Homo sapiens: one gene and its partner. The protein of the gene in region 2 purifies or fractionates together with the protein of the main gene of each other region. This does not show direct contact. Each region holds a gene or a part of one and is shown on either strand. Other genes may lie near its edges.

The links.
Region 1: the proteins of SPACA9 (region 2) and ODR4 purify together in Homo sapiens (affinity purification with mass spectrometry; one large-scale study listed by BioGRID and IntAct). This does not show direct contact.

What each region holds. Positions count from the first base shown.
Region 1 is NC_000001.11:186,392,566-186,396,385, reverse strand, and holds part of ODR4 (protein odr-4 homolog), read right to left. Parts: intron 2,440-3,820; coding exon 2,371-2,439; intron 1-2,370. UniProt on the Homo sapiens protein: May play a role in the trafficking of a subset of G-protein coupled receptors.
Region 2 is NC_000009.12:132,881,886-132,885,705, forward strand, and holds part of SPACA9 (sperm acrosome-associated protein 9), read left to right. Parts: intron 1-2,025; 5' UTR 2,026-2,062; coding exon 2,063-2,206; intron 2,207-3,820. UniProt on the Homo sapiens protein: Microtubule inner protein (MIP) part of the dynein-decorated doublet microtubules (DMTs) of multiciliated respiratory cells and the distal singlet microtubules of monoflagellated spermatozoa.

The DNA of each region.
Region 1 (3,820 bases), on a different chromosome or scaffold from region 2:
CACCCTGCCTAGGCCTCCCAAAGTGCTGGGATTACAGGCATGAGCTACCATGCTCAGCCAGGAAAAGTTTTAAAGAATGTAAGGTCTGACTCATTCCTTTTAGGTGGAAATGTAGACCAGTTGGGGTCTACAAATGTAAACTCCTCTTGGTTATTTGGACTTAGGAATAACCTGGCTGCCAAACAGCCTATAGGTGAGGGAACTTCTATGATGCTGACATGGCATTTGAAAAAGAGAAGATCCCCATTTCTATGGGAACCAAATGAAATCTTACACAAGTAGTGGCATTTGGGCTAGATCTTAATGTACAGATAGGATTTTGACAGTTTGGGTGACAGAGAAAAGAGCAAAGACATGATACATAGTTCAGGAAATACAGAGCTTTAAAGGTATGGCAAGCATACATCTAGAAAATAAGAGGTAGAAAATAAGAACAAAAAGGTATGCTGAGGCTATGAAGAACCCTGAGTTGGACTTCTCTAACTAGTCAGTACAGAACACTTAAGAAATTTTGAGCAAGGAGTACCATAATCAGTGTCCGGCTGTTGTACAAACTCAATAAATACTTCTTGAAAAAAATTAATAACTGAACATAAACTATGATTCAGAAATGATCATCTGAGTGTATAAACAGGATAGAGTAGATAAATGGAAAGTATTTCAAGAGATATACTAACAAAGGTAGAAGGGATTTAGAGAAACAATCACTTTGGACAAGAATGTATAGATGAAGAGAGACCAGTTAAGGGCTACTTGTGCTAGTTTAGGTAAAATAATACTGTTGTAAGGCTAATGACAGCAGGACTGTATGGAAAATAAAAGAAAAGCTTAATACTACAAATAAGGAATCAATAAGACTTAACTGGGAGAAAAGTGGCAATAAATACTTACTGACTACTTACTGTATATTAGTCACTTCAAAATTTCCAGTTAGGTGATCGGTGGAGTGACTACCAAAAATATATTATACTATATAATATTATTACTACACCTGGCCAGGCGCGGTGGCTCACGCCTGTAATCCCAGCACTTTGGGAGGCCGAGGCAGGCGGATCATATGGTCAGGAGATTGAGACCACCCTGGCTAACACAGTGAAACCCGTCTCTACTAAAAATACAAAAAATTAGCCAGGTGTGGTGGCAGGCGCCTGTAGTCCCAGCTACTCAGGAGGCTGAGGCAGGAGAATGGCGTGAACCCAGGAGGCAGAGCTTGCAGTGAGCCGAGATCGCACCACTGCACTCCAGCCTGGGAGACAGAGCGAGACTCCGTCTCAAAAATAACAATAATATTACTACTACAATAAATTATCTCATGAGATTATCTTCCACTCATCTCTCTATATTCCCACACTCTATACATCTCCCAACTACAATTTTATACTACTAATAAAATAATCTTAACCAAATTGTTTAATAAACCATGAAGTAAGCCTAACTAGTGAAAAGCACATAAGTAGTGGAATAGCCAGCCTCAAAACAAAGGACACTTCTAAAATCAAGACAAAGTAGAAAATCAGAGACTAAAATACCTCTAAGGTATTGAAAAATGAAATTGAGAACTCACATTGAGTGGCATAGGCCCAAAGACAATTTACTAATGCGCTATTGCTACACACAGAAAAAGAAGAAACTAAAACATCCTCAAATGCCAAATTGCTTTTAATTCTATTCTATTCAGTTCAAAAAAACACAAGTCCTGAGAGTATTTCTGTTTCAAAATCCAGTATAATATTGAAATAAAGTTTCCTACAAACACGCGTTTGCTATTTTATACCCTTGTCTGTTCTTTAGGATAATTTCAAGTAGGATTAAAATCAAAGGTATGTATTTTTAGGAATAATTAGTGGCTTTAACTTTTTATTCTTTAAGATATCCAACTTTTAAATTTTCGAAAAGACGTGTAAATTAAAGCAACCATACATAAATATAAAACTTGCTAATTAATACTTTGTGATTTTTATCAAATCAGGGGGTATAAATCTAATTAATCTACTTCAAAATAAGCATATGACAACTCTTTGCACCTCTGTGTACACATCTTTTAAGTTGTTAAAATTGCAACTTTAACTATAAAAGCTACAACCCAAAATATGTACACATACATACATGTATATGTATGCATGTATGTGTACATATTTTTTTAAACTGCTATCTATTGATGTTAAAATTTTAATATCCTTGAGGCAAAAAACCCAAACAGGTTTTATTAAAATGATGTTTCTTGGGAATAACCTTCCTATAACCAGCCATTTCATACAGTCTCTTACAGCTCTAAAATCCTTTTATTCTCTAATGAGAAAAATAAAAACAGAAACAGTTTCATTATGGTTATGCTAATAAATATTTTAAGTGTTATTTTAAAATATTTACCAACTGCGTTAGCACTCTGACATCAAAAGAATGACTAGTTGCTTGAGTATTTCCTCTAGAAGATTTTTTCTGAAAAAACACAAAAGTTAAAAAGCCAAACTGTGAAGCCTGTAAAACATAAAAGACAACTTATAAACTATTGTACATATACTAAGTAACTTAGAAAAAAACAAGTCTTTTAATTATTTTAATTTAGCTTTTTATATAGATATTACTTTATGTATTCTGTATCAATGTACACTCTTTAAAACAATTAATTCCATACTTTCATTCCTCTAAAGCAACAACTGGCAAACCACTGCCTGTGGGCAAATACCCACATTGCCACTCATCTTTGTAAATAAAGTTTTACCGGTATGCAACCAGGATCATTCACTTATGTATCTCCTGTAGCTGCTTTCATGCTACACAGTAGAGATAAAAATACAGCCTGTGAAATCTAAATATGTAGTATTTTTCTCTTCACATAAAGTTTGCTGATCCCTGCTTTAAAAAGTGAGAGATCACAAAAGTTCCGCTTCCTTCAGGTCAAAGCTATTTTAGAAGCCTCTATAAACCTCTTTTATAAAATGGCCATAGCTTTTGAACTGTCATCAGGGCAGAACAACATGTGGCCTTTGGTTGCAGGTCAGCAGTTTACAATTTGGAAATCAGATGAAATTCAGATGACACTCCTGTAAAGTTTCAGGATTCCAATTACATCATTTTCTTTTTTTTCCTGGACTTATTTTTTAACTTTTAAGTTCATGAGTACATGTGCAGATTTGTTACACAGATAAACTTCAGTCATGGGGGTTTGATATACGGATTATTTCATCACCCAGGTATTAAACCTAGTACCCATTATTTATTTTTCCTGATCCTCTCCTTCTCCCTCCTTTTAGTGTGTGTTTTTCCCCTCTATGTGTCCATGTGTTTTCATCATTTGGCTCCCACTTATAAGTCAGAACATACGGTATTTGGTTTTCTGTTCCTCTGTTAGTTTTCTTCTTTTCCTTTTCTTTTATTTTGAAATGGAGTCTTACTCTGTAGCCAAAGGCTGGAGTGCAGTGGCACGATCTCGGCTCAATGCAACCTCCACCTCCCAGGTTCAAGCCATTCTTCTGCCTCAGCACCCCGAGTAGCTTGTGCTTACAGGCACCTGCCACCACACCCGGCTAATTTTTGTTATTTTTAGTAGAGACAGGGTTTCACCATGCTGACCAGGCTGGTCTTGAACTCCTGACCTCAAGTGATCTGCCCACCTTGGCCCCTCAAAGTGCTGGGATTACAGGCATGAGCCACCACGCCTGGCCCCTGCCTCCCAAGTAGCTGCAATTACAGGCACCTGCCACCAATGCCCAGCTAACTTTTGTATTTTTAGTAGACACAGGGTTTCACCATGTTGACCAGGCTGGTCTCAAACTCCTGACCTCAAGTGACCCACCCACCTCGGCCCCCCAAAGTGCTG
Region 2 (3,820 bases):
TGTCTCCCTCACCTCACCCTAGTTGGTCCTGGGTGAGCCGGACACCACGGGAGGCACAACAGGAAACCACTGTGCGTGAGTCAGCATGTCTGCTCCATGTGGCAGGGACCAGCCAAGGATATGGCAGGTGTCAATAAACCATGGACCCCCCATCTCATTCCCCACCTTCAGCTCTCCTTTCCATAGGAGGTTGAGCTGGAAAGAGGCCCCTGCCCTGCCTGCCCTGGCCCAGGCCCACCCCCAGGGCAGCTGCGACTGTCCCTGTGTCTGTTGACAGTCACAGTGCTGTGGCTCTGCTGCAGAAGCATACTCTCTTGTCTTTCCAGGAGACTCACTCAGTGGCTCTTAAGGTGGCTCCTCTAAGGCAGCCTTGCTGGCTTTTGGCTCCAGGGATAGAGGCTCCATGGCTGGGCTCCATCTTGCTAAAGGGCCTCTTCCCCAGCCTCCTCCAAGTGCTCTGATGTACCACCCCCATCATCTCGCGGAGGCCATCTCCTGGTCTGTTCTTGTGTTTCCTTTCATTCCTCTGATGCCATCTCTTCTTGCATCAACTGGGATGCTCCCCCTACCCTGCCTCTTTTTTTTTTTTTTTTTTGAGTCAGGGTCTCCCTGTGTCCTAGGCTGGAGTGCAGTACTGCGATCATGGCTCACTGGAGCCTTGACCTCCTGGGTTCAAACTGGACCCCCAGCTCCAGCCCTGCTCTGGACACAGCAGAAAGAAATATTTCCCAGCCCCGTCTTGTTATTCCTATCCACCTGGGACCTGCTTGGAAGCTTGGAATGTGCCTTCCCTGCCCCAGTCCATGCTAAATGTTCTGGCCCCTTCCATCTCCAACATCTCCCTTGGACTGGACCTGAGCTCAGCACAGCCTTCTCTGACCCCTGCTCATGTGGTGACACGTTCGAGCCTGGCCTTTGTTCTGGAGGCAGTGGAGGGGCAGCCGAGTGTGGCAGCACTGACGATGCTGGTTAGACGTAAGGAAGCCTAGGACCCAGGGTGTCTTGGGCACAAATTTGCTGTGACACCCTGGGCAAAACCTTTCCCTCTGAGCCTCACTTTCCCCATAGCAGCTCAAGGGAGCTGGTTTTCTCAGTCCCTTCCAGCTCTAACATGAATAGAAATCTGTGGTCTGGAGCATTTTGCACGCGCTCAGCAAAACTGTGATGTCATGGAGCACACACCCACAGACTTTTCTGCTCACAGGAGGATTGTAGATGCTCTGTGGAGCACCTAAATCACAGCAGGGACAGTCTGTGAGGCGCCAAGAGAGAGTCCTCCCCACAGCCTCCATGTTACTGATCATGGCATTCCAGCAATTAACAGGGTCAGGGGGCAGTCCACTAGCCACCAGCCCTGCCCTGAGAATGCGCAAACCTGAGACCAAGGCTCCTGCCCCCAGCCCAGAGCAGGCAGACTTACATCTTCTCAAACTAGACAGTCTAGTATTGATTCTTCTCCCCGCTTAATCCATGGGAAGGAATTCCCAGACTTTCCCACCAGTTGCAGAGCAGCTTTACAATAATTTGATCCAAACTGATCATCTCCTGGTTTTATATCCTGTGGCATATCCCTTGATCCCAGGTTTTGCTGACACCACAGCAAGGGATTGGAGGGCGTGTGTGTACACGCGTGCGTGTGTGTGTGTATGCATGTACCTGTATGTGTGTGCACATGCATGTGTGTGCGTGTGTGTGTGCGCGCGTGTGTGTAGATACCCACATCTGGAGAAACAGAACCAGAGAAACTCTGTCCACAGCTGAGGGAAGAAGTCACATTTCCTGGCAAAGAATGTGTTCATGGAGGGTAAATTTCGAGGTCAGGCTCAGCTCTGTCATGGACAGCCTGGGGGCTCTGGACAAGTGTGCAGCCTCCCAGGGCCTCGCTTTCTTCTGTGGGGAGGCACTCACAAGGCGCTCCAGTGAGAGGGGCCATGGGTATCCCTCTCCCCTGACAGTCCTTCCCTCCGGAGCTGGATCCGAGCATTGGGTCCCAGGACCTCATCACTATCCTCTGTCTCCCCATAGATTCCTCTTCTCCTGTAAATGACCACAGAGGAAGACAATGAATGAGGTGAAAGAATCCCTTCGCAGCATCGAGCAGAAGTACAAGCTCTTCCAGCAGCAGCAGCTCACCTTCACCGCCGCTCTGGAGCACTGCAGGGAGAACGCCCACGACAAGATCCGGCCCATCTCCAGCATTGGACAGGTGGGGCTCCCGACCCCCACCCCGGCCGAGGGGCAACAAGCCCAGTCCCCTCTCACAAAAGATGAAACCACTGGGGCCCAGAGAGGGGAAGGACGTTTGCGCCAGAATTAGGACCCGGACCCAGAACCTAAATGATGTAATGAGTCCTTCATTCGTTTCTCTACCAAATATGTAAGTGAATAACAACAAGTGAATAAAGAGGCAGGTTTAAAACTCAGCCGGCCAGGGCTTAAGTCCTAGCTCTACCATGTGCCACTGCTGTGATCTCAGGCCAATGACTTCACCTTTCTGTGCCTCAGTGTCCTCATCTGTGACGCAGGTTCAGTGGTCACCCATAGAAAACCAGGGATTTACTGGTGACCAGAGGGATCCTGTCCTTCCCATCAGATTCCACTGGGGGTTGAGGAACTGTGGGATGCCAAGCACACCGCCAGGTGCTTTCGCAGATGTTTTTATTTAACCTGCATCTCCTCCAGGGTTAGCTGCTGTCCAGGTTTGCTGTGCAGGACTTGGAGGCCTCAAGACCAAATGATCCTTCCAGGATGTTAGGGGCTGGAGCTGCAGTGCAGTTAGGAACACACACAGGCCGGCCCTTCACAGCTTGGAGGGAGTCAGCTTGTGGAAGGGTAACTGCCCCAAGATGGGTGGGAACAGGCGCAGGGCTCAGAACTGCAGAGGAGAAACAGGCTCGGGAGGAACAAGCAACCCTTGCTGGCAGCATCCTTTAAAAACATTTTTTTCTGGCCAGGCGTGGTGGCTCATGCCTGTAATCCCAGCACTTTGGGAGGCCGAGGCAGGTGGATCATGAGGTCAGGAGTTTGAGACCAGCCTGACCAACATGGTGAAACCCTGTCTCTACTAAAAATACAAAAATAGCTGGGCGTGGTGGTGCGCATCTGTAATCCCAGCTACTCGGGAGGCTGAGGCAGGAGAATTGCTTGAATCTGGGAGGTGGAGGTTGCAGTGAGCCGATATTGCGCCACTGTACTCCAGCCTGGGCGACAGAGTGAGACTCCGTCTCAAAAACAAAACAAAACAAAACAAAAACAAAAACAAAAAAATGAAAAAAAACACTTTTTTTTTCTAATTTTGGTAAAATGTTTCCTCAATTTTTTAACTCAAAAAAATGTTAAATATAGAGGCCAGACACAGCGGCTCATGCCGGTAATCCCAGCACTTTGAGAGGCCGAGGTGAGTGGATCACCTGAGGCCAGGAGTGGAGACCAGCCTGGCCAACATGGTGAAACCCCATCTTTACTAAAAATCCCAAAATTAGCCAGTTGTGGTGGTACGCGCCTGTAGTCCCAGTGACTCGGGAGGCTGAGGCATGAGAATCACATGAACCCTGGAGGCAGAAGCTGCAGTGAGCCGAGATCGCACCACTGCACTCCAGCCTGGGTGACACAGCAAGACCCTGTCTCAAAAAAAAAAAAAAAAAAAAAAAGTTAAATGTACAGAAAAGGAGCACCCATATAACCCTCACCCAGATTCACCGACTTGTGACATTTAGCCAATTTAGCCATATTTGCCCACGCATGCAGCCCCTGAGCTATTGGAAAATAAACTTCCTCTTCTGTAAACCTGGACTTCGGGGGAAAAAAGAAAAGAAACTGC